Regions from separate parts of the Homo sapiens genome. Here regions 1 and 3 are each linked to region 2. Evidence: fine-mapped expression QTL. A gene starts in region 2. Each other region holds a variant in brackets. All regions are shown on one strand. Distances are between the middles of the regions. Region 1 overlaps SYCP2L (synaptonemal complex protein 2 like). Region 2 holds the start of ELOVL2 (ELOVL fatty acid elongase 2). Region 3 overlaps ELOVL2 (ELOVL fatty acid elongase 2).

The links. PIP is the estimated chance that this variant, and not a neighbour inherited with it, causes the effect. A credible set is the group of variants that fine-mapping cannot tell apart.
Region 1: its variant is the best candidate, but not a certain one, in a credible set for the expression of ELOVL2 in lung (TOPMed, PIP 0.70).
Region 3: its variant is the best candidate, but not a certain one, in a credible set for the expression of ELOVL2 in anterior cingulate cortex (GTEx, PIP 0.58).

The regions. Positions count from the first base shown.
Region 1 is chr6:10,971,277-10,982,066 of GRCh38, reverse strand. It overlaps SYCP2L (synaptonemal complex protein 2 like), which reads right to left. Exons shown (of 30, transcript NM_001040274.3): 30 at 7,758-8,115. It overlaps ELOVL2 (ELOVL fatty acid elongase 2), which reads left to right. Exons shown (of 8, transcript NM_017770.4): 8 at 1-1,308. Among named protein-coding and RNA genes, the nearest start is that of ELOVL2-AS1, 67 kb to the left of the region's middle. RefSeq lists an enhancer at 5,384-5,884. The variant G/A (reference allele first, on the strand shown) is at 5,768.
Region 2 is chr6:11,038,425-11,049,214 of GRCh38, reverse strand. ELOVL2 (ELOVL fatty acid elongase 2) reads left to right here and starts at 4,910. Exons shown (of 8, transcript NM_017770.4): 1 at 4,910-4,987. The coding sequence starts at 4,985. It overlaps ELOVL2-AS1 (ELOVL2 antisense RNA 1), which reads right to left and starts at 5,457. Exons shown (of 5, transcript NR_038964.1): 1 at 5,390-5,457; 2 at 1,216-1,306; 3 at 1-106. RefSeq lists enhancers at 3,379-3,879, 3,880-4,380 and a silencer at 4,815-5,014.
Region 3 is chr6:11,001,869-11,012,658 of GRCh38, reverse strand. It overlaps ELOVL2 (ELOVL fatty acid elongase 2), which reads left to right. Exons shown (of 8, transcript NM_017770.4): 2 at 1,850-1,913; 3 at 7,100-7,287. Among named protein-coding and RNA genes, the nearest start is that of ELOVL2-AS1, 36 kb to the left of the region's middle. The variant C/G (reference allele first, on the strand shown) is at 4,270.

The DNA of each region.
Region 1 (10,790 bases), 67 kb after region 2:
TTCTAAATCATTTTCTGAAGCTGACTTGCTCTAGGGTGCTTCATCACCACTTCCATCTTGCATCACCTTATAACTGTTCTGTCTTGTTCTCTCCCAGCAATTTATTTTAAAACAAGGGCTAGCTTCAAGCATGACTGTTAATGGCTCCTCTGTGACAAAACACAAGTTGGACCAAGGAGAAAGCCCTTTGGAGAAACTGGACCCTAGTTCAGTTTAGATCTCAAATATAGGCTGAAATCTCTTACCAAAGTGCGTTCCAGATAAAAATGAGACTTAGAAGACAGACTGGTCTAATATGCTCACTGGTCATCACATTCAGCTTATTCTTACGTGCCAGTGAGGCCCTAAGGTCTCAGTGCATAGCATACCTGCCACTCTGGATGTTTTCCTGGGCTTCATATCTGTATGGCAAGGAGGGAGCTGTCCTTCAGCAGACAAAGTCAAGCAGCTTTAAGTACAAGGCAGCTTGAAACCTCTCTGATGAAAGTGAAAAATGTGGGTAGCTTATACTTTCAAACTAATGCCAGTGACTAGAGAGAGGTTTCATTCATGATGTGTATTTCCAATTTGGTCTTCAATTCAAGAGATGCTTCATAAAACACTTATAGCCTTAAACCATTCAAGGGCTAATTAAAAAAATAGTTATGAAATCTTAGCCACAAAAAATAAATCAGGTAAACATTTTAACCTGTCGTTAAGTGTTGTAACTTCAAAAAACCAAAATGCTTATTTTAATGTGATTTTTCTAAAACTATTGAAAAATTAATATTTCTATAATCTATTAAAAAAAATGGAGAATGTTTTCTCTCAAATTTCCTCTGACCCATGGGAATGAAAATACTTAAATACTGTAAAGCATATCTATTAATAATTCCCCCAATTTTTTAAACTAACAAAATGGAATGTTAACTGAATGGAATTAAACATAGCAATTGTCAAGCCATCAAAATTATATATCGAACCACTTAGGCATGTTACGGGGTAAAGTCCTCACCCCTGCATTTGAGAAATATTTTATTATTTTTATTTTAAGGCAAAACAGTGTTTACTGTGATGGGCAGAACAGCCTTTTGTATCTAGGAGTCCATTTGAGTTCTTTCCAATATTTCCATATCGTTCATAAATGTGTCTGGGGGCTTCCTTGTTTGGAAAATATGGATATCGCTTTGTTTTCCTTTGAAAGTAATTATATCTTAAGAACATAGTATCATGAATGGAGTAGACAGGGAGGCTGCAGAAGCCATTTCTCTTTGTAGATAAAAAGCATTATCTATGATTGTTGTATAATAAATTGATTTTTACATTAAATGCATGTTGCGAGTTTTATTTGGTTCAAAGCAGTTAAAATGTATGCCTGCATGGAATTCCAAATGACCTATCACTTGGGAGTTATTTTTACAATAAGGCATTATTTTAGCCATGAATTTTAGACATTTAATTCTTCTCTTGTTTCAGTGAGCAATGGATTATATCATTACCTTTACATTGTATTCATATACCAAGTTAAGCTGTTTCAAAAATGGCCATTCACTAGAAAAACGTAAGATTAGCAGAGGATATAAAGACGATAATTAATAAATTGCTATATAAAGCCACCTAGGGAGGAGCACTAGATTTGTTTGAGGAGAAATTTTTAGGCAGGAACGACATCGTGCAATGCCCTGAAACCCAGGATACAATTCACAGAGCACCTGCATGGGGAGAGAGGTGGTCAGCTCAGCTCGGGAGGAGATGTAGGTGAGTGAGGCCTGACTGTGAGGATGCCTGGGAGAGTTGAGGCGAGGGGCAGGACCACAGGTTGGCGTTTTGTCAGTGTAGAGAGTCGAGTTTTGAATGTGATATTAAGTATAATGAGACACAGATCCTAAAGAAAACTACAAAAGATGTGCTCAAAGTCTGATTAAAAAATTGCTTAAATTCCTGGATAGTGACAGGTGGGACAGGATAGATTTTAAGGAAGGGCAGGAGGAGAAGAGGGAATAGGAGAAGACCTTATTTTAGCTATCTGAATGGGGGCTAGAGTTTGGGGTGGGAGGTTAACGTTTTAGAGGAGCCTTCCCTTTGTTATTTTAAATGGTGGGTGGAACTTAATAAAACTTTGTGTTTAAAAATAAAAGATAAATCCTATGTCTCTATGGCAAGCCTAATAACTGTTGTCACAAACTTAAAGAGCTGCTTATTCAACAAGCGTTCACATCAATAAGCCTCTTAATTCCTTTATGCAAAGAAAAAATTCAGCATGTGTTTTTGTTACAGCAGGCTCTCTTCCAAGAAAAATTACATTCCCATATTTAAGGAAGAGTTTCTCTCCAGAGTATGCAAGGAAATAATCACTCCTAGGAGACTAACTACAGTCACCTCAGGATTCCCTGACCTTCAGTAAAACATGACTTTCAGTCATAGGGGGAAAAAGACTGAAAGCTATTGATTTGTAGGTCATTTTTCCATCTTCAATTGCACTGCAGAACACTGGAATAACACTGAGAGGACAAGGAAATCTGTAATCCGTACCCTCATTGAGCAATTGGTAAATGCGGTCATTGTGGATCTAACGAGCAACCCACCGGGAGCCTGTTCTGAAAGTGTCTGTGACCACATTTGGTAGGCTGAGGAAGGCGAAGCTTGTCACACATCCCTTGATGTTGCATGTGCCATGGTCTATAGCTACCTGGATGACTTGAGATGGGCATTTTCTCTTGTAGTTGCCACAATCACCATCACTCATCCTTTTTCTTTTTCTTTTTTTTGAGACAAGAGTCTCACTTTGTTGCCCAGGCTGGAATGCAATGGTGTGATCTCAGCTCACTGCAACCTCTGCCTCAGCCTCCCAAGTAGCTGGGATTACAGGCATGTGCCACCACTCCCGGCTAATTTTTTTTTTTTTTTTTCAATAAAGACAGGGTTTTGCCATGTTGGCCAGGCTGGTCTCGAACTCCTGACCTCAGGTGATCTGCCCACCTCAGCCTCCCAAAGTGCTAGGATTACAGGTGTGAGCCACGGCACCCGGCCCATTCATCCTTTTTATTCAGCCTATTAACCTGGCTGGCCCCTGAAGGCATTTGAATTTGTGATGCCTATACATTGAACAACAAAAGGAGAAAGTCTATATAGAGTTTCGCCTGGGCCCATATGATATACTTACAGGGAGATGAACACAGACTTACCGGCAGTGGCCCTAGAAACAAATGATAGATGTTGCAGATTTCTCTGAGACTGAAGCACTGTACGTAAGACAGCTCATGTAGAACCAGCTCCTATTCTTTTCAAGCTAGTTTAGACCTATGGAGTTTGATAAACTCTGGAAATAGTTATATTCAGTCTAAAAATTCATCAAATCTTGTCCAGCACTACGTATCGTGTTAGGGATATAGAATGATCTAGATGAAATATCTGTCCTCAGAGTTCATAGTCTAATAAAGTAGATAAACATTTAGCTATAAAATAAGTATTGAGGCCGGGCACAGTGGCGCACGCCTGTAATCCCAGCACTGTGGGAGACCAAGATGGGCAGATCACCTGAGGTCAGGAGTTCGAGACCAGCCTGGCCAACATGGTGAATTCTCGTCTCTACCAAAACTACAAAAATTAGCCAGGCGTGGTGGCCATGCCTGTAATCCCAGTTACTTGGCAGGCTGAGGCAGGAGAATCACTTGAACCTGGGAGGCAGAGGTTGCAGTGAGCCGAGATCACGCCACTGCACTCTAGCCTGGGCAACAGAGTAAGACTCCCTCTCAAAAAAAAAAAAAAAAAAAAAAAAAAAATATATATATATATATATATATATATATTGCCAGAGAAACATTCCTAAAGGAAGTAATGCCTGAGGTTAGTTTTGACGGGTGAAGAGTTCAAATAGACTTCAAAGAAAGTGGTGTCCCAGAAGCCAAGGAAAAAGAGAATATTTAAACAGAGAAAAACGCTGCAAGGCAGCAAGGTGAGCAACTAGTGAAGGCGTGGGGGGGGAAGGCACTGAATTTGGCCCTTGGGAGGCAGTTGGCAGATTACAGGGGGCTTTAGAATGAATGGGAAGTCGAAGAAAAACAATGATGAAGCAAGCCATATGAAAATCCTTCTGAAGAACTAGGGATGTGAAGGAACAGTTACAGTAGTTGCTGAAAGGGAGGAAGAGCTAAGGGGTGTATGTGTTGAATACTTTCAGGAGCATCTGAGTGACTGCAGCTGAGATGGAGGAGGAGGAAGCAGTAAGAAAGAAGCCGGCCCCTTGCTCAGCTCATGGGGCTGGGGCAGGGGATGCTTCAGGTGCCTTTGTCACCACAGGGAAAAATGCCCACAACAACATGCTGGCGAGACTGCAGAGAAAAGGGAATGCGTATACCCTGTTGGTGGGAATGTAAATGAGTTCAGCCCCTGTGGAGAGCAGTTTGGAGATTTCTCAAAGAACGAAAACCTGAATTACCATTCAACCCAGCAATCCCACTACTGGGTATCATCTACCCAAAGGAAAATAAATTGTTCTACCAAAAAGATACCTGCATTTGTATGTTTATCCAGCACTATCCACAATAGCAAAGACACAGAATCAACCCAGGTGCCCATCAACAGTGGATTGGATAAAGAAAATGTGGTATATATACACCATGGAATACTACACAGCCATAAAAAAGAATGAAATCATATCCTTTGCAGTGACATGGAAGCAGCTGGAGGCCATTATCCTAAGCAAATTAATGCAGGGGCAGAAAACCAAATACCGCATGTTCTCACTTATATGTGGGAGCTAAACCTTGAGTGCACATGGACATAAAAGGGGAACAATTGACACTGGGGACTCCAAAAGGCAGGGGTGGGGGAATTGAAAACCTTCCTATTGGGTACTATGCTCACTATCTGGGTGACAGGGTCAACAGAAGCCTAAACCTCAGCATCACACAATATACCCTTTAACAAACCTACACATACACCCCCGAATCTAAAATTTAAAAAGTTCTTAAAACCATAGAGTTCAATAAAAACTTAATACGATACAGGAAAGAAGACCCTTCCCTATAGTCATCTATGGCCTCTAGCAAATCCCCCTGAAAGCAGTCTACTAGAGCCCTGAACCCTGCAAAAAAACTGGCCTCGGTCTCTGTCACAGGAAGAAGGTTGGGGAAGGAGTCAAGAGGGGAGGTTGGTTCACGCAGGCCTGGTTGGCTGAGGTTCCAAGTGCAAAAGCCAGGAGTTCATCTGCTGCCTGAGGGCAAAGCAAATCCTCAGGGGAGCTGCTCGGAGGATGGAAGGTCAGAGCACAGAGGAACACCTAAAATGACAAATGAGGCTGAGGCCACAGATGGCAACAGAGTCTGCTGGGGTAGCTACAGGGCTGTTCCCGGCTACGAGTGAGTCAAAAAGGAAGGGAGCCTGAGTGTAGGGCTGGGAATGGGCCCAAAGGCTGGCTCAGTCCCCAAGGTCAGGGTGAGGAAGCTGACGCTGCTCTTCTTCCCCGAGGGCTGGATGTCAGCATCTCCAGGATGCCTCCTGGTCCAGCCTTCTCTCCGTGTTGCCTGGAAAAGCACATCGATTCCTGCATCCTGCCACCCCGCCCTGCCTTTTCAGGCCAGGGGAGCTCACACACCACCTGGCACAGCACTCCCCAGGCTGTTTTCCTGTTTCTCTGTCTAAGTGTTGGACTGATGTCTGTCTCCCCATTAGACTGCCACTCCTTGCAGGCAGGGGCAAAATCACATTGAATCCTTGGCACCCAGCACAGCACATGGCACACAGGAAGTGCTATAAGGATTCGCTGAAGAAGACAATGTGCAGTAGA[G/A]CCTCTCTAGTATTTCCAAAGAGATGTCCCCAATATCTCAAGCTCATGGTTTTTGCAACTTCCATCAACCCATCCTCAAAATTAGCTCTTTAAATCTTACACCTACCATAGCCTCTCATCTCTGTCCCCTCTTTTTCATTCCCAGTCCTATTTTAGTTGAGGCGTTTATTGTAACAGTAACCTCCCACAGTGTACTGAATGCAGCCTTCATATTGCTACCAGATTAATCTTCCAAAACCACTGTGCTCCTGATGTCTTCAGTGGCTTCTTCTCACCTACAGAATAAAGTCCTTCTAATCAAGCTGGTAAAGACACTTTAGTTTGGGCCTAGCTAAATTTAATTCCCACTAATACTCCATAGTATTATGGCCTCAAACAAATTCTGCATTTTTCTTCTCTGTTCTTATATTCATGAAAGCATCTCTTTCCTAATCCTAGAAAAAAACTCCTTCATCCTTCAAGATCTATTTCAAGTGATACCTCTCCTCCAGGAAGCCATCCTGCCACCCCAACAAAAATGACTTCTACCTCCTCATAATCCCGATGGTGATCACTTTACACTTCATTTTGGCACTTGTCACATAGAGCCTTGATTTACAGTGACCTGGGTGTCTTACTGTCCTCTCTAGACTAAGTTCTTTGCAGCTAAGATAGCGTCGTATCCATCCTAACATCTGCCACATCAGCTTACTCAAGGGTTTGTAGAGAACAGTGCTCAAATATATGCTCACTAGGTGCTGGAAGTCATATAAATTCTTCAGACGTACTTCAATGAAGACAGTCCATGTAATGGCACTGAAATCCATACACTCTCAGGTCATGAGAAACTGTGAGCCCTGAACTGGATATACCTAAACGAAATGAAGTTAGTTAACCTCATTCATGTTTTTTGGACTTAAAAAATAAGTGCTCTTGGCTGGGTGTGGTGGCTCATGCCTGCAATCCAGCACTTTGGGAGGCCAAGGCAGGCGGATCACCTGAGGTCAGGAGTTTGAGACCAGCCTGGCCAAGATGGTGAAGCCCCATCTCTACTAAAAATACAAAAAATTAGCCAGTTGTGGTGGTGTGTGCCTGTAATCCTAGCTACTCGGGAGGCTGAGGCAGGCGAATCACTTGAACCTGGGAGGGGGAGGTTGCAGTGAGCCGAGATCGGGCCATTGCACTTCAGACTAGACAACATGAGCGAGACTCCGTCTCAAAAAAGAAAAATTATATAGAAGATGGCAAAATAGGAATTATAAACGTTTTAGACAAATTAAACTATAAATTAATAACCTACATAATGTAACTAAGTTTTATTATATAGTGAATAAAGTATTCAGTCTGCAGTCTTTCACTTCACTTATCCAGTCATGAACAAAGGTACTTTGTAGATGGCCTTAAATGATGTAGGCTCCATTTTTCCAAAATAAATTCAAATGCTTACCTGTATGTGCAATTTCATCCACTCAAACTTCACTAGAGCATCTAGTAATTAATAACAACATGATGAATATTTCTGCCCTGCTAAAGGTGACACTTTTGTTGAAGTGCTGGAGAAATGAGAATATTTGCAGATCAAATGAGACCTCCTAATAAGTTTATTTTCAAAACATATCACAGGCTGGGCACGGTGGCTCATGTCAGTAATCCCAGCACTTCAGCAGGCCAAGGTGCGTGGATCACGAGGCCCAGAGTTCAAGATCGGCCTGGCCAAGATGGTGAAACCCTGTCTCTACTAAAAATATAAAAATTAGCTAGCCGTGGTGGCACACGCCTATAATCCCAGCTACTTGGGAGGCTGAGGCAGAGAATCGCTTGAACTTGGGAGGCGGACATTGCAGTGAGCTGAGATCGTGCCACTGCACTCCAGCCTGGGTGACACAGTGAGACTCTGTCTCAAAAAAATTAATTAATCAATTAAAACAAATGTAAAGCCACCATTTTTACCTGAGCTACCTTCATCATCTTCAACTCAAATTTCTCCTTCCAAGAGACACATCCAATTGTATTTATACAGATGCTGCTAAAGTGTTTTATTCACACAAAACTTGAAGACATTTCTCAAACAAAAAAAAGTCCATTTTACTTTTATAAAAAAAAAGCAACACCACTCCAAGTTGTTTAACATCCTGAACTTTCTATTAATACTATCTGACCAAATTTTAATACAAAAGGTTAATTTTTATGAACAAATGGATAATAACCCAACTGCAAACTACCAACATATATTCTATCTGAACTCAGCAGTTCCCAGGGATGATGTTTGGAGGGGAGGAAATTGAATGCGTACAGAGCACGAAGTCTGGCTAACAAGGCCTGAGCCAACAATAACCTTGCTCTTTCTCTTCGTCTTCAGGCAGCCCAGGCTGGCAGAAAAGGAAAAGGAGAGCAGTAATTAGTCAAGGCCGAACTGTCCTCCTCTTAGTCCCTAAGAACCCTGTGAGCCAATAGGAGCATCATTCCTTTTTATCCGCTACATCTCACTAACTCAGGTATTCAGTGAAGCATCTTACATGGTTGTCAAAAGCTCATGTCAGTGTCCTCGGCAGAAACTGCCTGGTTATCCTCAGAAATCTCTTCAACACATGCCACTCTGAAGATGTACCTGCCATCTCTCGATAGTTTAACCTAACAGGTGATTTTGTTGGATGTTGGAGATAAGACAGCTCTTTCTCTGTTATAGCACCAGATGAAGTGGGTGGCCTGGCTTTAGGGGCCACACTAGGAAAACTACATGTTGTTAATAGCCAGATTGGCAATCAGACCTATTATTATTATTATTATTTTGAGATGGAGTCTCACTCTGTCGCAAGGCTGGAGTGCAGTGGCACAATCTTGGCTTACTGCAACCTCTGCTTCCTGGTTCAAGTGATTCTCCTGCCTCAGTTTCCTGAGTAGCTGGAATTACAGGCGTGCAACATCATGCCCAGCTAATTTTCGTATTTTTAGTAGAGACGGGGTTTCGCCACATTGGCCAGGCTGGTCTCAAACTCCTCACCTCAGGTGATCCGCCCACCTCGGCTTCCTAAAGTGCTGGGATTACAGGCGTGAGCCACCATGCCCCACCTATCAGCCCAATTAGATGCTCATAAATAAGAGGTTGGTAGGAGCTGATATCAACTGAGGGAACAGATTCTCCCATCCCACCCAAACTCCAGGGCACATGCCTACTGAGAAGAATGGCAGAATCACCTGAGCGATATAAGTTATTTCTCCATTTTTTTCTGTGTGCAGCATGTGTAATTTAATTCAGGCATGACAGACATGACTAGTTACCTATCTAACACCTATTCTCCCCTGTTTCCTTATTAACAGAAGCCCCCACTTTTGGGGAGTGCTGTGACACACTCAGTCAAATTTTCACCTCTCCGGATTCCCTTGCAACTAGGGTGAGCCATGTGACCTAGTTCTGGCCACTATGATGCAGACAAAATCTATCAGCTTGGGCTTCCAGGAAAACTGTTTCCCTGATTTTAAAAAGTGGGGAGGAAGCTGGGCATGGTGGCAGACGCCTATAATCTCAGCATTTTGGGAGGCTGAGACAGGAGGATAAGTTGAGCCCAGGAGTTCAAGACCAGCCTGGGCAACACAGCAAGGCCTCATCTCAAAATAGACTAAATAAATAAAAAGCGAAAGAGGGGAGGATGTTGGCATACATCTTTTACCTTTTAGTTTTACTCAACTCCTTCTTCCTGCCTGGGGTGTAGAAAAGATACCTAGAGGTACAACAGCCATGCTGTGATTATAAAATTCCCAAGTCACAAAAAGAACGGTAAAGCAAAAAGCTCAAAGAACCCAGGTCCCTAATGACTACTTAAAGCTGCTGTACCACCAGCCCTGGACTACGCTGCTGCTCTTCACAGGGAAAAAAGTAAAAGCCCTATTTGGTTTAGCCGCCAGAGTCCAATTTCTGTTACTTGTGACCAAATGTAACATGCACATTTAGTTCACATTTAATCCAATTCTCTATTGGAGCTGGGAATTATTCCAATATTCTTAGCCCAGATTAGTCTTTTTTTAATATCCTCTTTTAGTCTTATTTTGATTTGGAGATTTGTTGTTATTGCTATTTCCTCAAAAGAAAACAGTATTTTTTTCCTCAATAATGTAATTCAAGGTATGTGTACAAAGATATTCACTACAAATTTTTGAATAATAATTAAAAATAACCTGGATGTCCATTATAGGGAAAAATATATAAGTTATAGCATGTTTATAAACTATTTTGCAGTTATTAAAAAATAAGATCTTGTATTGCTAAGAGGCGAGTCCTATTTTTATTGCTGAGTGAACTAATAATATATATTTAGTATATCAATTAATCAATTAATACATATTTATAGGCTGGGCGCAGTGGCTTATGCCTGTAATCCCAGCACTTTGGGAGGCCAAAGTGGGTGGATCACCTGAAGTGAGTAGTTCAAGACCAGCCTGGCCAACATGGCGACACACTCTGTCTACTAAAAATATAAAAAATTAGCCGGGTGTGGTGGGAGGCACCTGTAATCCCAGCCTCTTAGGCAGGAGAATCGCTTGAACCTCAGAGGAGGAGGTGCAATGAGCTAAGATCGTGCCACTGCACTCCAGCCTCGGCAACAAGAGCGAAACTCCTTCTCAAAAAAACAAAAACAAAAACATATATAAGTATACATGTGTAAATATTTGTATATATTCTTGTGTAAGCATCACAATAATCTTTGGAAGAATATACTCCCAACTATCAAGAGGTGGTTGTCTCTGGATCATGGATAAGAGGAAAGGCTGGAGAGAGCAAAAAATTTAACTCTTTATAAACTTTTATGTTGTTTGTTTCACAAAGTAACTCCTATCTTTCTTTCTTTCTTTTTTTTTTTTTTTTTTGAGACAGAGTCTCACTGTCTTGCCCAGGCTGGAATGCAGTGGCACGATCTCGGCTCACTGCAACCTCTGCCTCCCAGGTTCAAGCGATTCTCCTGCCTCAGCTTCCCAAGTAGCTTGGACTACAGCCTCGTGCCACCACACCCGGCTAATTTTTTGTATTTTTAGTAGAGATGGGGTTTCA
Region 2 (10,790 bases):
GCATGCGGGGCTTAAAATCTAGATGACGGGTTGAAGGGGCAGCAAACCACCATGGCACACGTATGCCTATTAACAAACCTGCACATTCTGCACATGTATCCCAGAACTTAAAGTAAAATAAAAAATTATAATAATAATTAAAAAAGAAATCTGTACTTGTATGCATTAAATATATAAAAATTAAAATACATAAAAAACTTAAAAAGCAAAAACCTAGAAAAATAAAGTGCTACCCCCAAGTCACTCTATCATCATACTGTTTCTTCATGACATTTCTCTATCTAGACTTATTGTCTTCTTCCTCTCGTTGAAATATGAGCTTCATAAAACAAGGGAAGTCACCTATATTGTTCCATACCATATTAATATCATCCAAGTTCTACAGAAATTGGCACTTTTTCTTGTAAAGGGCCAAATAGTAGCTATGTGGGGACTTGCAGACCATACAGTTGTGTCACAACTCTGCTGTCCTAACATGAGAGCACCCACAGACAATACGTAAACATAAGGACACAGTGGTATTCTAATACAAACTTTATTTACAAAAGCAGGCAACTGGCTGGATTTGTCCTGCCACTGTAGTTTGCCATCCTCTGCTCTAGAATGTTATACTAGAATATAGTACTCAGCATAATATTTTCAAATGAATTAACATAAACTTTATTTTAAACCTGGATTGATACAAGGTCATGATTGTCTCCTTGTTACTACATCCAATCAAATGACCAATATATACATATATTGCTTTGTCATAAATCCTTAGTCCTAACATATCGAGTGAAAGCTGCACTAAATTTGATGGAGGGAACTCAGTTTTTTCAATGTGCCTTCACTTGGGCTTAATCTTTACTCTTTATCTTACTATTTTTCATTTCTAAACTCATATAGGTGCAGAGCTTTCTTAACACAAAGCAGAGCCCATGGCCAAGGAAAGGACGTGATTTCCAGAGTCTGTTTCTACTACTACCCTAAAAGTACAAATACTTTGAAGAAATGTAGTAAACTGATTTAAAGTCATAATACATTGTAAGTGAGTATTTTTCTCAAGATAAAACACAAAGATGCTAGGTATATCAAAAGAAGGGATGCTTCAGAAGAGAACCACACTAAAAGGAGATTAAACTCCCCCCAAAACAAAGCTTGCCTACTTCATAATTTTGATGAGGGCTGGCAGACTAGCACTGCAGAGGCAGTAGAGACAATGAGAATACTCACCCAGGATTCAGGAGATCCAGGCTTTAGCACTGTCATCTATTAATCGGTCTTCTCTAACTCCTCTGAGACACACTTTCTGAACCTATAAAATCTACGATATGTGACAGAGGGAGAGAAAGAGCATCAGTCAGATCTCTATTTTTAGGTTTAAGATTCTTAGATTATGCTAATCATCACTTTATATAGCACCACATCCATGTAAGTACCTAACACACAATTAGTCTATGTTATTGTACACATGCTCAATATGGGCTTGCCGTACAGCTAAGAAACAGAGTCCAGCTTTTGTGTAATCCATACAAGAGAACAACGAAAGTAAATATTATAAAATCATGTAAGTGATGGCATGTTAAATTTTCCATTAAGTGGGAATTCATGTTATACCCAGTTAAGACCCTCTCCCAGTTATATCTGGTTAAGATATGTTTCCAGTCCTGTGTTTATACAGGTAGAACCACTTCCTTTTTTAAAAAAATTAATTAATTTATTTATTTTTGAGATGGAGTCTTGCCCTGTCACCCAGGCTGGAGTGCAATGGCGCTATCTCGGCTCACTGCAAGCTCCGCCTCCTGGGTTCAAACAATTCTCTTGCCTCAGCCTCCCAAGTAGCTGGGATTACAGGTGCCCGCCACCACGCCCAGCTAATTTTCATATTTTTAGTAGAGACGGGGTTTCACCATGTTGGCCAGGCTGGCCTCAAACTCCTGACCTTGTGATCCACCTGCCTCGGCCTCCCAAAGTGCTGGGATTACAGGCATAAGCCACCGCACCTGGCCACCACTTCCTTTTTCTATTTAATAAAATATTGGTGGGGAAAAAGACCCTCTGGCATTTGCCGTCTCATTTGTTCCTTTGTTGTAGTGATAAGGAAAGCCATAAAATAATATTTTAAGAAACAGATAAGATATAGATGACTTTTTAGATCTCCTTCTGGCCTTATGGGTTGATGTGTATTTTTAGAGAATAAAGGTAAAATAATGATTATCAGGCTAAATGGTAATGTGGAAGTATAGGGATAATTCAAAGTTTAAGAATTCCTTCCCCATGTTTACCTGGTGTGCTTTGCAAGGTTTAGATGACATCAATGATACAATTTTTGCAAGCAACAGCCGCAGGGTTCTTAGAGGTCGGTTGTCACTTAAAATTGTTTTTTCCCTTCATGTTGTTAGAAAAATAGACTAAAGCTTTCCCTGAATGGATAATGGAATTTAGTTTCTCAAAATATCATCCATGGACTGCCTGGCTGCACCAGTATCATTTGTGGTGCTTGTTCAAAATTCATATTCCTTAGAAATGGAGGTTTCACCACTTCAAGACCCATAGAGAGTCCATTATACTTTATGCAGGGTCAGAGATGCCTCTGGAATGAAGTAGATACTCCCGCAATGTGAAACTGATAGCAAATATTAAACCCAAAGCAAAACCAAAAAAAAATTCATATTCTTGGTCTGTACCTGAGGTCATCTTGATGGATCTCAAGTATCCCTGTATAGTATTAAACCCTCTGGTGCTACTTATACACAATAATGTCAAAAAATCACTATCTAGATTAAGAATTCACATTATACTGCATCAGATTAGTGATACAGTGAAATTCAGGTCCAGAGTTTTTATCATTCAATATCCAAAAGACGTGGAAGCTACTTTTATAGCTTTCAAATATAACACGTATCAAATAGAAGAAAGAACACAGGTAAAACAGAAAGAATAAAATCATTCCAAGGAAAAACAATATTTGGGGACTATTCGTGTGAATTTCCTTCAAGTCTCTCAATATCATAATATAGATCATCACAGGTTCTAAAAACTCCTAACAGCAGGGACTGTGTTTTTCTTCATCACTGTAACCCTAGCTGTTACCAAAACGCCTAGCACATAGTAGGCACTGAAATCTTTGCTGAGTGAACAAAGTAAGTGAAGCTGAAATCAAATTGTATCTTTGATTTGGGCCACACTTTTTTATAAAAATATGCCAGCATTAAATAGAATATCACTTTCTGATTCTCAAATGCATCAAATTGATAACAAATCAATAACTAGTACTTTTGTACCAGATATTTTTCTAGAGTTTTACCCATATTAATTTAACCCTAACAGCTACATGTAATGTTAAGTGCTATTTTATCCCAAATTCGTAAATCAGGAAACTGGAGCATAGACAGTTTAGGTAACCAACCCAATACCACACACCCAGTATGTGGCAGAGCTGACTCCTGAGATTTTTATCAGACTAGGTTAACCTGTTTATGGTCATAAAATCATCCGCCTTTTATAAACAAATATATGCCTAATATTTACCACTTCAGCTACAGAAATTCTATATTAGGAAGAAAAACTCTCTATTAGGAAACTATATATTAGGTGATTGTATGACAGTTAAGATTTAGCCCCGGTACCTACAGTTACTCACTCTGCTACTGCACAAAACTCTGCAAGGGCTCCCACACCGCCCCAGGTGTGGGATGCTAAGTGTATGGTGCAGGTACCTCCGTGCACAGCCACACGGGCTGCTCTCAACCCCAATAAACATGTTTACCACATGAGCCTCACATGTGGTAAACATTTTTTTTTTTTTTTTTTTTTTTTGAGACAGGGTCTCATTCTGTCGCCCAGGCTGGAGTGCAGTGGCGTGATCTCGGCTCACTGCAGCCTCCACCTCCAGGGCTCAAGCCATCCTTCACCTCAGCCTCCCGAGTGGCTGGGATCACAGGCGCAGGCCACCACACCCAGCTAATTTTTGTATTTTTTATTTAAGAGGCGGGGTTTCGCCATGTTGCCCAGGCTGGTCCCGAACTCCTGACCTCAAGTGATTCGCCTGCCTCAGCCTCCCAAAGTGCTGGGATTACAGGAGGGAACCACCACGCCCGCCAACTTCCCATGCTTGAGGGAGAAATGGAAGAAAGTTCATGTAATACTCAGGCAAGTCCAATTTTTTCGACGTCTTTCACTTGGGCCACACACACAACTAAAGTAACTAGAAGCGCAGGCTCTAGGAGGCCACCGTTCTGTTCACAGTGAAGAGGGTGCGCTCACCGTTGGTCGTGTCCGCTGGAAGCCCCGCGTCAGGCCGGGAGCGGGACAGAGACTCTTGCTCAGGGCCGTTATCCGAACTGATCCGCTTCCCACCGCACCCCCAGAGAAACCCACCCAACCCCCTAAACCTAAGAAACCCAGACTGCGCAAACCTGCAGGAACAGAGCCATTTCCCCCTAATGTGTGCTTCAAACCCACCGAAGCCCAACTGTAAGCAAGACCAGCGTGCCCGCCCTGCACGATACTGCTTCTCCCCGCAGCAGCGGCTGCCGATCTGGGCAGCGGGTGGGTATTCCTGGGGCTCCGTGGACGTTGAGCCGCCGCGCGAAACCGGCGCCGGCTGGACCTGCAAATCGCCGCCCGGCCGGCAGGGGACGCCGCGGACGCGAGGGCGAGGTCGGTCGCCCAGGAGGGGGCGCGCGAGGCCGCAGGGGCGGGGGGCGCCGCCTCACTTGCCCTGCGCCCCTCCCCCGCGCGCCCTCCTGGCGCGGCGGCCGGCGAGGCCCCTGTGGGAGAGGGGGCGGGGACGAAACGGCCCCGAGGCTCGGAGCGCCGCGCGGCGGCGGCGCGAGCCCGAGGGGGCGGGGAGGCGCGGGCGGGTGTGCGCGCGCCGGGCGTGGGTGTGGGTGGGGGTAACCGGCGCGGGCGCCGAGATAGCGCCGGGCAGAGGGACCCGGCTACCCTGGACAGCGCATCGCCGCCCGCCCGGGTCGCCGCGCCACAGCCGCTGCGGATCATGGTGAGTGGGGCCGCGCGCCGCCACCGACACCGCCGCGCTTTCTTTCTCTCCTGGACCCACGCACCGGGCGGGAAAGGGCCGAGCGGGCGCCGGCGCGGGCGCTGCGGGTTCGCCGCTGGAACCCGCTACCCTCGGAGGGGCCGGGTCCGCGCGGGCCTGGGGAGCGGGAGCTGAGCGTTTGGGCCGGGGGCGCGCGGGTCGGCCCGAGGCCCGCGGGTCTCGGGAACTTTGTCTCGGTCCCCTCTCCCCGGTCCCGCCCCGGCACCTCGAGGCGCCCGCTCGCGCCCAGTCCCCTGTTGCATGCACGGGGCCGGGCGCCCGGGATGCCCGAGGAAGCCGCCCCTCCTTCGCGGCGGCCATTCCCGCGCGCAGCCCACCCTCCGACCCTCCGGACCCCCGAACCTGCTCTCGCCACCGCCCGCCGACGCCTGGAGCGGAGAACGGCGTTTCCCGCGCGCGGCACACACCCTGCCTCGGGAGTTCTGGGGTTCGGGCCCTAACGGTCAAGCTCTTGCCCCTCTCCTCCCTTCACCGCGCCTGCACCCCGGGGGTGTGTCTGTGCACTCGTGGGTGCCTCCTGGGTTTGCAGATTGGCTTGGGAAGCGGCTGGGTTTCTATCAGTGTCTGGGCTCGGAGGGGCTTCTGGTGTGTTCTTTCCGACAACTCCTCTCTCTGCCCGATTTCCCAGGCCAGTCCTCCACTCTGGATTAGTAACGCTTCTTTCTCCTCGGCAGTAAGCTGTGTGTGTGTGTGTGTGTGTTCACCCGTGTCCGATGAACTGCCTGACAGTAAGCTGTGTGTGTGTGTGTGTGTGTGTGTGTGTTCACCCGTGTCCGATGAACTGCCTGACAGTTTTAGTAGCAGAGCCTGGTTCTTTGGTTACAAAGGGAGAACATCTGTTGTGCCATCCTCAAAGGACTGGTCTTTAGGCAAAATGTGAAATCCGCGTTTGTCTTCAGTGGTCCATATTCAGTGTTTGCCTCACCCCCTTCCCGTAGGGTTTTCTCTCCACTTCAGGACTTGTTAAAATAAGCGCACTTCCTTTCTCTTCCCCACTCCATCTGATTTTGCTCTGGCTACCCTTTTAGGCACGTACCATCTGCCTGATTATGTGTGACCACTTAATCTTAAAATTCCAACCTTTCCTACCCCGCCCACCACAGTGTATATTCCCCTTGCCTGCTTCATTTGTCTTCTCTTGAGCATGTATTAGTTAGCGTACTGCATATTTTGTTTCTTTAGCTTGTTTCTTGAACGTCTCCTCTACCAGAATATAGGTTTCAGGAAGACACAGATTTTTGTCATTTCGTTCATTGCTTGCTAGATTTCTAGTACCTACAGCAGTGCCTGGCGCACAGTAGGTACTTGATAACTCTTTTGAATTAACCCAATAAAGCAAGCTGCTTTATGTTAATGCACAGGTGGGGAGTAACTGCAAAGATTATGCAGTTGACATTTGTAATGATGAGAGTCTCAAGTGAAGTTTGGGAGGAGGGAGATACTCCCGACAGGAGGGACCCGATTTTGGCAGCCTTCAATGACGAGTCTAGGCGGCTATCTCTTATGCCTTGTCTGTCGCTTCATGCTCTTTGCACCTTGGCATCAGAGTGGACAAAGCATTTTTAGGACCAACTGGCTCTCCTTTTGGGCTCTGAAGCTTTGTCCTAAAGTATAGGTAGGAATTGTAGTGAGTAAGGGAATAAGTCCAAGGAAATCTCTTTAGCTGAATAGGAAAGTCATGGGAATGTTAACCTAAAAGAGCTAAAATCAAGGGCAAGCTCTTGAAAGCTTTATCCTGCCCAAGTGTGATGCTTCCTGTTTAGATAAGTATTTCTCAGAAACTGTGGGTCTTCAGAGGAATTTTTTTTTAATACCCAAATCCAAATTGTATTACTTTTTTCTTCTTTCTTTTTTTGTGGCAGGGTCTCACTCTGTCACCCAGGCTGGCATGCAGTGATGCAATCTTGGCTCACTGCAACCTCCACCTCCTGGGCTCAAGTGATTCTCGTGCCTCAGCCTCCTGAGTAGCTGGGATTACAGGCGCACGTCACCACACCAGGCCAATCTGTGTATTTTTGGTAGAGACAGAGTTTCACCATGTTGTCCAGTTTGGTCTCTAACTCCTGACCTCAAGTGATCAACACCCACCTCGGCTTCCCAAAGTGCTGGAATTACAAGGCATGAGCCACCATGCCCGGCTGAAATCGTATTACTTTAAAAAAAAAATGGGCAGGGAGTAGGAAAGTTAGGGGGTTGAATTTATAAATAACTTAGTGGGTCAGTTCAGAGAGACATCCTTTTCAATACATGTCCAATATGAACTGTCTTGTAAGATATCTCTGCTAGTTAGTCTTATTATTCCAAAATAAATATTTTTTCTTTCAAATTTCCTTTTGTTTTTCTATAATGTGGATTTATGGCATTGGTTTTTTAAAAATTAGTCTGGAGAAATGTATTAATTGGAAACAAATTGTTTAATAAAATTTACATAAGTTTTTGAAAATTATGTAATTATAGCTATGACTATGTAAGTTCAGCAGTTCTGTGGTTACCATCTTTCCCAGGTAGGTAGTAGAAATTAAAGGTAAAAAGGAAAGAAATATAAGTTTGTCTTTGAAATTAAAACCAATGAACCAACCAAAGATGAATGAAAGATACCTTATTGACTTAAGTTTCTATTTGTAGGATATTTTACTGTTAGGATTCCTAGGATTCCAAAGTATCCAGCCTTTTTCTCTTTCGATTCTTCGAACGTATAGCATTTTCAAGGAGTAAAAAATCAATTTTTAAAGTATCCAGTTGGGTAAGCCTAATTTTTGGTTCTTCAACAAGGGTTCCATTTAATCTAGTTTCCTTCAAAACGTTTTAGTCAGTTTGGGAGGTTCAGGTGCTTTCATGTTCCGAAAGAGAATGTTGAAAATGTGTCAAGTAGATATTATGTATCTAGTTATGTTCAGAAAACAGGGCCCTGCTATTCAGGGTTAGGTGGATGATCGTCTGGGTTGGACAGTTGGATATGTATCATCTAACTTGACAGGTTTGCATTTCTGGGAGTAGACATTGATAAGGGGAAAGAAGTTGCACCAGAAACTTCTTTAATGGCCCAATGTGGTGAAAATACGCCAGCATCAGTAGCTCATAGTAATTCTACAGTTACAGATTCACGCATTTGTAGCTTTTCTTCTTAATTGAATTGGGACATAACTGACTTTGACAATGAACAATTCTAATAAATAGTTAATTTATGACATTTTAAATCTAACCATTTAATAATTGGAGAGCATAACTTGTTCTGAAATTTATGTGACAGTTTAGAACCTGAGATCTGAGGTCATTCGTGGGCTTGAATCCTGACACCAGCATTTAACTGTGTGACCTTGGGCTTCAGTATTTTATCCTGTAAAAGATGATAATATTTCATAAGGTTTTCGGGAGGAACAAATATGATGGTGCCCTTTATGTGTCTAAAACAGTGCTTGGAGTGCTTAGTAAATATTAACTATTATAATGATGTGTGTTCTTTTTTCTCCCATATCTATTTTAGTTGAGACACTTCAGAATGATGTCTCTGTCCCTTTTGTGGTCTTAATATACAACTAATATTGCTGTCCAATAGAAATATAACATAAATCGCATATGTAATTTTCAGTTTTCTACTAATCATATTTAAAAAGTACAGAGACAAGTGAAATTAGTTTTAATAATGTTATTTAACCCAATCCATGCAAATATTTCAACATGTAATCAATGCAGAAAAAGATTTTTCCATTGTTTTTTTTCATAGAAAATCTTCAAAATCTAGTGTGTATTTTATGCTTAGAGTGCATCTCAGTTCAGGCTAGCCGTATTTCAGCGGCTCAGTGGCCACCTGTGGTTAGAGGCTACCGTATTGGACAAAGAGCTCTAGATTGTACACAACTTCCAAGTTTACCTCTTAAAGCTCTTACACCCTTTCCACTAGTGAGAACCTCACTGCCACCTTAAACCCAGCATTACAAAAAGAAAGCTACTCATCTTTCAGACTCTCTTCTCTGTTCTCTTTTGCTGTTAGTAATTCCACCAGCTCTTCAGTCTACTGTGTCTGAAATCTGATTCTTATTCTCTTTTTTATTTTATATTGTTTGTTGTCTAATATTCTCATATTTTTACTTGAAAATATTTCAAAATCTCTTTCCTCCACCCCTTGAGCCCCCTTTCCACCATTTTTGCCTTTTCTACAGATCTCCTCTTTTGTAGACTCTTTGTTTTAACTTTTTTACTTCCTGTCTCTTGGAAAATGTATATCTCTCGCTGAATCACTGGGCTCCACATTCTCTCCATTCCTTCCTCAGCCCTTTTTCATGTTGTCAGAAATGGTTTCTATTTTATAGGTTATTCCTACCCTTAATACCTTTCCTTTGTCAAATATCCAGAGAAGTATAATTACTTTCACAGATAGTCTGATAGTAAAATGATCCACTCAAGAAAAGAAGCACAGATAAAGGAGAAAAATAAGCTAGGGGAAGGGAAGATGAAATCATTCTTTGAGTTTTATTTTCCTTTCAGGAAATATCAGAGGGAATCGATTCTAGTAGTCTGTAGTACAGTAGAGAAATTATATGACTATTTATTTTATGTTTCAAAATAGCTAGATGAGAATTGTAATATTTCTAACATAAGAAAAGATAAATGTTTGAAGTGATAGATATTCCAGTTACCCTAACTTGATCATTACATTGTATACATGTACCAAAACATCACATGTACCCTGGGAATATGTACAACTATGATGCATAAATTAAAAAATAGTAACAGAGAAATATCATGGAACTGATTAATAATCACAATCACCACCACCACCACAATAGCAATGAAACTTGATGTTTATGCAGTGCTTTCTAAGAAACAGGGCACCTTCCTGTGTGCCTGGTGAACAGAGGGAGAAAACGAAAGGCACTGGACCAAGAGTCAAGAAACCTGGGTTCTAGCCCTAGCTTTATTGTTTACTAGCTCCATTCCCTTGCTTAAGTTGCTTTGAGACACTGTTTACTCACTTGCTAAATGGTGTATTATCTCTGTCACAAGATTGTTTTGTTAGAATCAAATGGGGCCTCAGCATCTTTACATTGGCTGCCCTTTGGCTGTATACATCTTTCCCCCAGAGAGCTTTATGTCTGTCTGCTTAATACTTTCATGATTAGACCTACCCTAACCACTCTACTAAAACTGGAACCTGCCTTACCATATGTCACACACCATATTCACACACACAGTTGGATATGTACCACACCTGATCCTCTTACACTGCTTTATTTTTTTTCCACAGCACTTAAAACTAGCAGTTTGCTAATTTACATAGCACTTGGAACCATTTAATCATTAATCTCTTGATAAATTTAAAATTATTTAATTATCACAATTCAGTTTGAGCATGTTTCAGTAATACAGCTGCTTCATCAATACACATTTGCCTGTGTAACCTTTTAGTAAATGATAATATGTATTCCTACAGCATATTTACACTTCATAGTCATATTTGTGGAAAGGGCCAGGTTATGTCATTTTTAAATAATTTAATCCATATTTCATCATAAGTTTTTAATGAAATTAAAATGCATATGTATTTCTATTTTTAGATAAATCTATACTTATAGCATTAAGTTCTTGCTGAAATTAAAAATGATTATCTTAAAATATAAACAAAGCTATGATATATGGATTTGCTGAGTAATTTTATTTTTATTTTTATTTATTTATTTATTTATTTTTGAGCTGGAGTCTTGCCCCATCACCAGGCTGGAGTGCAGTAGCGCAATCTTGGCTC
Region 3 (10,790 bases), 37 kb after region 2:
TGTGACTAAATTTTTGCAATATAGAAATAATACGGGCTTTGTGACCTTTAGCGTTTTCTTAGCTCTACAAATGTTGGAAAATGGATTTTGAACCTTAGCAAACAAGCTGAAACAGTTTAAACATTTGTTTGTGGGTGCAGCAATGGAAGAAAGACTTCATTGGCATTTGTTATGATGGTGAGTACATTTGTGAGATTAACATTCTTTGCTCAAGACTGAGAGGCCTCTGGTCAGCCGCCCCCATTCTAAAGCAACACAGATCATATTCTGTCACACTGAGATCTCAGGTAACTGACCTTTCTCACATCGGGGGCCTCCCGAGATGCCCTACATGGAAACAAAGATGAATATACTGTTTAAAAATTTTCAGGCTTGGTTTAGCCCAGATATTTTTTATAAAGATATTATGAAATAATGAAGATAAAGTTCCTTATATGCTGGCCAGCAATAGTAGGTGCCAGTCAATGTTAGTCATCATCTTCATCCTCTTTCCCAAGCTTTCTAAAGTTCCCGAAGACATACGTTTCCTTGAAATTTCTCTCAGGATCAGAGTCACAAATAAGGAATAGGTCCAAGTGATATGTGCCAGGCAGCAAACATGCCGCTCCTCTTTTTCAGATGCCAGCAAATTAATCATCTGTTTTGGCACTTACAACTTTTTTTGAGAGTGAGCTGAATCTAATGCATGCTCCATATCAACTTCCCGAGGCTGTCATGCTCAGCTCACACACAGTCAGGGACCAACCCGCTGGCCCCACCTTCCTGGAAATACTGGTAATGTTCTGACTTCTCCTCTGGTTGCTTGAGGAGGTGCTGTAGACCTCTGTGGCGGAGCTGGGAAATACCTGAACGGGTATTTTGAGCAGCGTGAGAGCAGACCATGCTGGCAGTATTCCGGCTCCCACCTGAATCCAGTGAAAGTGACAATAATTAATCGGGTGTACCCAAGTGGCACTATTTACAGTAATATAAAGTAGATGTTAATGTGTAAGAAATAGTTTGAAAACAAACAAAACATAAATAGAAAAAATAGCTGTAATGCTCCTTACTTGAAAAACAGTCCTACTTAAAGTTTTAGATTCAGTTTTACGAAATACAGTTCAGCCTGAATTTTCATTTTAAAACTGGATTTATGAATATATTTTGTGGAAACAGATGTTCTCTATTGCCTACCCACAACTGTTATTGTAACAAGGGAAGTTGCTTATGGAACAGCTTTGCCTATAAGCATTTTAGAGGTAAATGGAATTTAGGTCAATAACCCTTCAATGTTTTTTTTTCTTTTTTTTTTTTGAGACAGAGTCTCACTCTGTCGCCCAGGCTGGTGTGAGGTGGCGTGATCTCGGCTCACTGCAAGCTCTGCCTCTCGGGTTCACGCCATTCTTCTGCCTCAGCCTCCTGAGTAGCTGGGACTACAGGTGCCTGCCACCATGCCTGGCTAATTTTTTTTGTATTTTTAGTAGAGATGGGGTTTCACCATGTTAGCCAGGATGGTCTCGATCTCCTGACCTCGTGATCCGCCTGCCTCAGCCTCCCAAAGTGCTGCGATTACAGGTGTGAGACACCGCGCCTGGCCAACCCTTCAATGTTTAAATGCACCAAGTCTGTTCTCTAGGACTCCTCTTGCCTAAGGAAATAAGAGGAATTGTTTCCTTCCAAATCTTTATAGGCTTGTGAAAGGTGAGGATGCATTTACTGTCCTCTTTCCTTAAGTCTTTGCAGTCAAAAGTCCTTGAAGCTGGGACCCTTTGAAAGTCTGTCAGTTACATGTTGTTGGTAGTGGCTTGTTTTGACCGTTTCAAAAAAAGAAGAAAAAAACACTTAAATCATTTTTTCTTTCTCTTTTTAGGAACATCTAAAGGCCTTTGATGATGAAATCAATGCTTTTTTGGACAATATGTTTGGACCGCGAGGTCAGTGAATTACTTGAGAACTTAATGTGGAAGGAACACAGGAAGAACACCATTTAGTTATAGAAAGGGATTATGTTATTTCTGGTGTCTTGGAAATAGTAAGGTACTTAATATTTAGAAACTTAACTTCCTCAACTTTGATATCCTTCCAGAATGTCCAGAAGATCCCATTTCTCCTACTGCTTAACCTCTCCTGGGATTAAAGAAGTTCTGGGAGCAGGAAGCAGAGATAGAGTGAAATGCAATGCTTTCCTCCAGTGTCTGTCTGGCTACAAAGCCGGGTTGTAACTTTCCTTCTAAAGGATGCTGCTTTCTTGTTTCCTCTCCACTGCCCATTCATCTTCCACCTTTCTTACATCCTAGTTATATGTGACATTTCTGCCCTTAGATGCCTTGATAAATTCCCTTTAAAGATGTGTGCGCTGGCTGGGTGTGGAGGCTCATGCCTGTAATCCCAGCACTTTGGGAGGCTGAGGTGGGCGGATCATGAGGTCAGGAGTTCAAGACCAGCCTGACCAACATGGTGAAACCCCGTCTCTACTAAAATTACAAAAATTAGCCAGGCGTAGTGGCTTATGCCTGTAATCCTAGCTACTCAGGAGGCTGAGGCAGGAGAATCACTTGAACCCAGGAGGCAGAGTTTGCAGTGAGCCAAGATCGCGCCACTACACTCCATCCTGGGCAACAGAGTGAGACTCTGTCTCAAAAAAAAAAAAAAAAAAGATGTGTGCGCTTTCTCTGCCCGGGGCCCGTAGGTAGGATGAGCTTAGACATCTCTCCATCTTTCCTTCATCACCAGTCGCTTACTGTACTGCAGTGGCCTCCTAACAGGCCTCCCCTCTTCCACTCTTGCCCCTTCCAGTCATTTATTCAGTGTCAGCTGGAATGACATTCTAAAGACCTAAGTCATATTGCATGGCACTGTAGCTTAAAACTCATCAGTGTCATCCCACTGCTCTCAGGTAAAAACCAAACTTCTTATCATGGACTGCGCACCCTTGGGCTGTCTAACCCCAGCAACCTCTCCAACTCAGTCAGTATCCGTCGTCCTCACTGGCTTTCATACAGCTGCTCAAGCCATCTTTTAATTCTGCAAATATGTAAAATTCTTTTACGTGCTATTCCCTGAGCCTGGAATTCCTTCCTAGGATCTCCTACCCCTCCCTCCAGATGAGTCAGTTCCTGTCACACTTGAGGTGTCAGCTTAAACGTTGCCTTTTCAGTTGGGCTTTGCCTCTCTAAGGTACAGTAGTCCCCCCTTAGCAGCAGTTTCGCTTTCTGCAGTTCCAGTTACCCGTGGTCAACCATGGTCCAAAAATAGGGGAGCACAATACAGTAAGATATTTTCAGATAGAGAGATGACCACATTCACATAACTTTTATTATAGTATATTGTTATAATCTCTTACTATGCCTAATTTATAAATTTTCCATAGGTGTATATGTACAGGAAAAAGCATGGTACCTACAGGGTTTGGGAGTATCTGCAGGCTCAGGCATCCAGAGGGGTCTGCTGTGGTCCCTCATCATTCTGTTTCAACCCTTGTTTACTTCCTTCAGATACTTCATTGTTACCAACAGCGATTTCTCCCAGAAGGGCAGGAACCCTGGCTGTTTTACTCACCATTTATCTCCAGGGTTTATTACAGTTCTGGGAACATATTCAGCACTGTATATTTTCCAAATAAATGAATGAATTCTAGACAGAAGGTTTCATTTTACTTGAGCCTTATTGGCTCACAGAACTGTGAAAAGTCCTTAGTTCTCTACAAGTTATTTCCTCAGCCCTATTGGAGGAGTGAGAGAGCAAGGAATGAGGAGGTTTTCCTGTTTCTCAAGATCTTTAAACAATCACTTGAGTATTTAGGCCATTCTCCATTTTCTCCATGGGCTCTATTAACTGTTCTAAATGCATGACTATATAGTTTTAATATAATGATACTGATTCTATACAGCTTTGAAAAAATCCTTTCACATAGGTTTTTTTGCTTTTTCCATTTAACCTCCTGATGACTCTGTGGGGTAGGCAGGGCAGAATATCTTTATCTTCTAACCTACTTTTACTATGTTCTCTCCCTTACAGTTCTAGTGGGTAGAAAGGAGAACAGCTCAGTGTAGAGGGCATGACCCTCTCCCTTAGGCATGCAGGACCCGGGACCCCTCCCTTAGGCATGCAGGACCCAGAGCCCCCTCCCTTAGTTAGGCATGCAGGACCCGGAGCCCCCTCTCTTAGTTAGGCATGCAGGCCCCGGGGGCACTCTCGCTTAGGCATGCAAGATCCAGGAGGAAGTATGATTTGTTGGTGACAGTGGTTTTCTGTTTGACACTTCGACTAGACAGTTAAACAACAACTTGT[C/G]TGCGCCAAGTTCACTGAGCTTTGCTGCCAGTAAGATTGGCGTGATCTGGAATTATGTGGATGTGGGATCAATTGAGGAAAGGATTACAGTTGTTTACTCTGCATTGGTCATTTTATGGAATTTTCCTTTGTAGCAAGGAGATTGTAAAATTGACAGTTGACAGTGGAATCAGATGAGCTCCACACTGACAAGGTGTCTAGCATGTAAGCCATCAGGAATCCTTTTTTCTTCCTAAAAGTCTCACACCCTGATGCTGACTGGCACATCACCGAATAAACCTCTCGGTGTCTCCTAGCCTCTTCTGATTTTGCCCACACCATGTTAGTACCATCAAGGGGTATTGTTCTGAGCAAATACTGACTCAGAGGAAGAGCTAACACTTCTCAAGTCCCAAAGATAAGAAAGTTTATTACAAGCATTTGTTCCTATCTTTTGGCTAAAACAACTATGATTATCCTTAACAACTGTAGCAAACATTTACAGCACTGTGACAAAAGAAAACAAAAACCTCAGGTGCTATATTAGTTTGCAGTATGTGCTTGACTCAATGTGCCAATGGATATGCATTTAATGAATGTTTCCTCTTAACTCAGCACTACGTGGGTATGAGTCAGACAGAGTAGAGATATAAGACCTAGTGGCTGTCTCCTGGAGCATGTACTATAGTTGGGGAGGTAAAGCCAGCACATCTGAAACTACTGGAAATCAATTAAATACTAAACCATGTGTGTTTGTTTCCTAGGCTGCCATAAAAAGTGCCACAAACTGGGTGGCTTAAATAGCAGAAATGTATTCTTTCACAATTCTGGAGGCCAACAGTCTGAAATCAAGGTGTCAGCAGAGCCTTGTTCCCTCTGAGGTTCTAGGGAAGATTCTGTACCATGACTCCCCGTAGTTTCTGGTGGTTGGTGGCAATCTCTGGTGTTCCTTAGCTTGGAGATGCATCACTCCAATCTCTGCCTCCCTCTTCACATGGCCGTCTTCTCTTTTGTCCTTGTATTCAGACCTCTCCTTCTTATAAGGACACTAGTCATTGGCTTAGGGCCCACCCTAATCCAGTATAACCTCATCTTAGCTATATTATATCTGCAAAGACTCTATTTTCAAATAATGTCACATTCACAGATACCAGGAGTTAGGACTTGAAGGCATCTTCGTGGGGGACACAATTCAGTCTAACACCATAACAAGAAGTAGCGTAGCAGTTTAGTGCAAGTCATTTCACTTTTCTAGGCCTCTACAGCTCAATTTTTCTTAAGGGTAAACTGGGATGATATTATCACCTATATAATGGGATTGCTTTGAGAATCAAATAAGTTAATACATGTAAAAGCCTTCAGAATAGTGCCTGGCACAGAATAAGTGCTCAGTAAATGTTATAGTAACAGTATCATAGCCATAATAATATGTGAATTAGAAAATGATAATAATTGTCTTGCTATGCATATGAGGAGCTATAAATATGAAAACACAGTAGGAAATGTCTCCCTTCAGAAGTCAGGACCTTTATCTGGGCATTAAAAGATGAGTAGGGTTCAGATATGGAGATGGACATTAGGAAGTGACACACAGCACAGACTTATGACAGGTGATTGCAAGCCTGCTGTATGAAAGGTGGTATCTGTTAGTCACATGAATGCTGAGAAGAGCTTTCTAACCTTTTTATCTCTATCACCAATGGGAGATATTTATAAAATAAGTGATGGGACAGTCAGAGCTTCAGAAGGCACTTGCCTTGTAGAAATGGTACTCTGTAGGGCGGGTGGTTTAACAAGAGGCTGGGGTATACAGGGTAGGATGCACCAGAAAGGGACTTAGAAAACAAAAAATTCAAGAAAAGGCCATTGCCTGTTGGTGAAACCAGCTCACTACAACTCCATTTGTGGAGGTTAAAAGCAGCATGCAATTTTTATAATTCTGGGCCAAATCATTTTCTTTATTTAAACAAACAAAAAGAGCAGAATAGAGAACACAAATCATTTAGTGTCTACAATGATTTTCAGGTGTTACTAATTATATTGTAGCTCTATCATGTGGGTTTCATTTAGGCTTTTAAATATTCACTCTGCAGTGTAAGGGGCCCTGATGTATTCAGCTGCTTGCCTCCCTGCTGTGTAAACGTCCAGTCCCATGGCCAGATCTGGGTCCTCAGTTCTGAATCACAGCTCCCAGGCTTTGCCTCTGCTGTCTGCAGCCTCCAGGCTTGCTGCACGGTCATCCTATTGCTTTCTCTGAACCAGCTGAACTCTAAACCCCTTCCATTACTGATACTAGGCAAATTCGGAGCTGTGTGGGCTTTAGGAATTAGGATACAGTATCGATATGCCTTCTTTCCTCTGACTGCTCTGATCTTCTCCATGGGAGGACAGCTGCAAGGTATCATGGGGCTGGGAGGCAGATGTGACTGGTTCAAATCCTGACTGTACTGCCGACTATGATGTAGCCTTTTGAAAGTTACTAAAGCTTTCTGAGCTGTTTTTTTTTCCATCCATAAAATTGCATAATAGTACTTACTTCATATTAATTTAGAGTAAATAAATGCAGTAACTGTTCCAAAATAGGCATTCAAGAACTGTCACTTCACACCTTTACTTCTTGTCCCTTTCATTCAGTGTTCAGCCTAAGCCCTGTTTGCTCCATGAAACCTTTACCGATTCAGCCCACAGGCTTCCTCTTCCCCTGAACTCTAAACCCAGGCCAGCCTACCTAATGTTGTATGGAGTTGTTCCCTGTTGTGCTGGTGTGTACAAATGCAATGTATGTGACAATACTGATGACTAAACAGGAGCATCATTCCTCAGGATCCTCACTGTATGTGTTTCTTTTCAGATTCTCGAGTCAGAGGGTGGTTCATGTTGGACTCTTACCTTCCTACCTTTTTTCTTACTGTCATGTATCTGCTCTCAATATGGCTGGGTAACAAGTATATGAAGAACAGACCTGCTCTTTCTCTCAGGGGTATCCTCACCTTGTATAATCTTGGAATCACACTTCTCTCCGCGTACATGCTGGCAGAGGTAAGTGTTTATGTAGCCAAAGCTGAAGTCCAGTAACTAGCAGTTTTTATTAACAGAAACAACCACATCTAGCCTGGCAGAACTATGCAAGGTTACTTTAAGACCTAAAAACTTATTCCAGCATTTGATATTATTCTTTCTGAAAATCCTGGAAGTCCTTGTTTATAACTTGAATCTTTCTATCCCAATTTAGACCTATTTCTTTTTTTTTTTGAGATGGAGTCTCGCTCTATCATCCAGCCTGGAGGGCAATGGCACAATCTCAGCTCACTGCAGCCTCCGCCTCCCAGGTTCAAGCGATTCTCGTGCCTCAGCCTCCTGAATAGCTGGGATTACAGGTACTCCCCACCATGCCCGGCTACTTTTTGTAATTTTAGTACAGACAGGGTTTCACTGTGTTGCCCAGGCTGGTCTTGAACTCCTGATCTCAGGTGATCCTCCTGTCTTGGCCTCCCAAAGTGCTGGGAGTACAGGTGTGAGCCACTGCGCCTGGCCTAGACCTATTTCTTTAGTCTCTAGTCTAATTATAATTTAGATTCACAATGTAGATCAAATGGGCCTTTCAAGATCATGTTACAATTTTCTCCTTTTACAGATTAGGATACTGAGGCTTAGAAAAGTTTCATAATTTGCCTGAGAGTAGACAGTGATTAACCGAGTATTTTAAAAATTAACTTAAACATCATATGCAGTTAGTTTGACTGAAATGCCAATATATATATTCCCTTAAAGAATACTCTGTATGTCTTTGGAACACTGACGTTTTAGCTCAGCTCTAGTGGCCCTTTGTTACATCCTGTGCTCCAAATTCCTCTGTGAAGCACCAAACCAAGGTCATTTTACAGGAGAAGGAACAAGGATGATTGCCCCATCTGTACAACCAAGGTTATTTTAATGTAAAGGAAGGGGAAATCTAAAAGTGTTAAATAACTTGCTGTAGAAAAAAAAAAAAAAAGAGGGACAAAGAGAACAAAAACAAAAATTTTTAGTGATTTTATAGCTTGTATAAAATCATTCATACAAGCTATAAGCGGTGGATAATGGCACAAATATAGCTGCCTTTCTGGTGATCTTGAGTTCTAAAAGAAAACAAATCCTTGCCTTAAAATGAAAGTTCTCTTGAGAGTTTATTCTATGCATTATTCTAATATGTACCATTCTTAATAACTATTAATATTACCATAAATGACTGGAATGAAGCTCTCATAATGGAATTTTAGGCATCAGTCAGTATAGGAGATGGAATTTTGGGGTCAAAAAAGCCATGCTGACAACTTTTTTTTTTTTTTGAGGCAGAGTCTTGCTGTGTCACCCAGGCTGGAGTGCAATGGCGCAATCTCAGCTCACTGCAACCTCCACCTCCTGGGTTCAAGCAATTGTCTTGCCTCAGCCTCACGAGTGGCTGGGATTACAGGCACCCACCACCAATCCTGGCTAATTTTTTTTTTTTTTAGTAGAGATGGGGATTCACCATGTTGGTTAGGCTGGTCTCGAACTCCTGACCTCAGGTGATCCACCCGCCTCGGCCTCCCAGAGTGCTGGGATTACAGGCGTGAGCCGCCACCCCCAGCTGACAACTCTTAAAATTATATCACATAGGTGCTCACGAATCTACTTGACACTGAAAGGACCATTTTTATTTTAGGTTCTCTACTAGCTGAATTTTAGCTCCCTAGATGAGTTAGCAAGATAGTAATTTATGGGATTCGTTTCTCTATATAGCAGAAGGCAAGATACTCTTGGATTGTTTTCCATAAGTGACAGCTGCACACTATTTACAATAGCAAAGACTTGGAACCAACCCAAACGCCCATCAATGATAGACTGGATAAAGAAAATGTGGCACATATACACCATGGAATACTATGCAGCCATAAAAAAGAATGAGATTCATGTCCTTTGCAGGGACATAGATGAAACTGGAAGCCATCATTCTCAGCAAACTAACACAGGAACAGAAAACCAAACACCACATGTTCTCACTTATAAGTGGGAGTTGAACAATGAGAACACATGGACACAGGGAGGGGAACATCACACGCCCGGGCCTGTCGGGGGGTGGGGAGCAAGGGTAGGGAGAGCACTGGGACAAATACCTAATGCATGTGGGGCTTAAAACCTAGATGAGGGGTTGATAGGTGCAGCAAACCACCATGGCACTTGTATACCTATGTAACAAACCTGCACATTCTGCACATGTATCCCAGAATTTAAAGTAAAATAAAAAAGAAGTGACAGCAGCAGCAGAAGGGCCAGCCTGCATGTCCAACCACACCAGCAGTTCTAGTACCTGTTTGGGTGGAGCTTTGGTGTAATGGAGTCAGAAGATACAAGTTTGTTTTAGCTCTGTCACTTTCTGTGTAATTTTACAGCAGTTTAACTTAGACTTTCCAAACCTTAGGCAACTTATCTATAAGGCAGAGATACAATATTTCTCCTATATAACTCTTGAGTGACTTGTAAGGATTGATGACTTCTGTTCAATCAGCATGTAGTGAGCTTTTCCTAGGCACTGAATAGGAAGCCCTGAAGGTATAAGATGGATAAGACACAGCTTCTACACTTGAAGAGCCTATGGACTAGTACAGGGTAGGAGTTGGTAAATGTGAAAATGCTTTGTGAATTGTAAAGTGCTAGTTGAACAGTAGTCACCATCAACAGGAGCAAGAACAACCGTTTAGTTGTTGAACAACGAGGTAAATGTCTTCTTTCTAGGAAGAACGTATCTGCACTGAGCCCATTGCCTACCACTGATTTTATCTACTGCTTACCCACTCTTTCTCTTAAACTTTGTATAGGTGTAAAATCACTTAGTTCAGTTCAAAATCACTACCATTGATTGCCACCCAGTCTCCTCTCTTTGATTGTGACCTCTTTCAGAGCAGGCAAAAGGTCTTCTTTGACACTCTGGGGGTATGTTTAATAGATACTAGTCAGGTGACACACTGATTTAACCTTGCTAACTTGTTAGGGGTCAGCAGATGTTTGCTTAAGCCAGAAAATCACCGCAATAATTATTAACAGTCTTTCAACAAATATGTATTGAGTTCCCACACTGTCAGATTCGACTGTAGATTCTAGAACACAACCTTTGCCCTGTAAGAAAGAGTGAGAGGCTGGTGATGGGGCAGCCTCTGAAAAGGTGACATTGGAGTTGAGACTGAATGACACAGTGGACAGAGGATCAGTGGTTCAAGATGAGGTGGAGAGATGGCAGATGACATTGGGCCCTTGGAAGGAATTTGGCTTGCACTCTAAGTGTAATGGAAAGCTATTGGAGGATTTTAATGACGGGAGTGCTATTATCTCCCTCTTAAAATAGATCACTCTAGCTCCTACATAGAAAATGGACCATGAGGGTGAGTTGGCAAGAATGTTAGCAAAAGTCCAGTTAGGAGATCATTGCAGTACTACAGGCAACAGATGTTAACATCTTGGATTAAGGTGGTGAAGATGGGAAGAAGCTGGTGGATTCTAAGTATATTTTGAAGTGATTTAGTCCA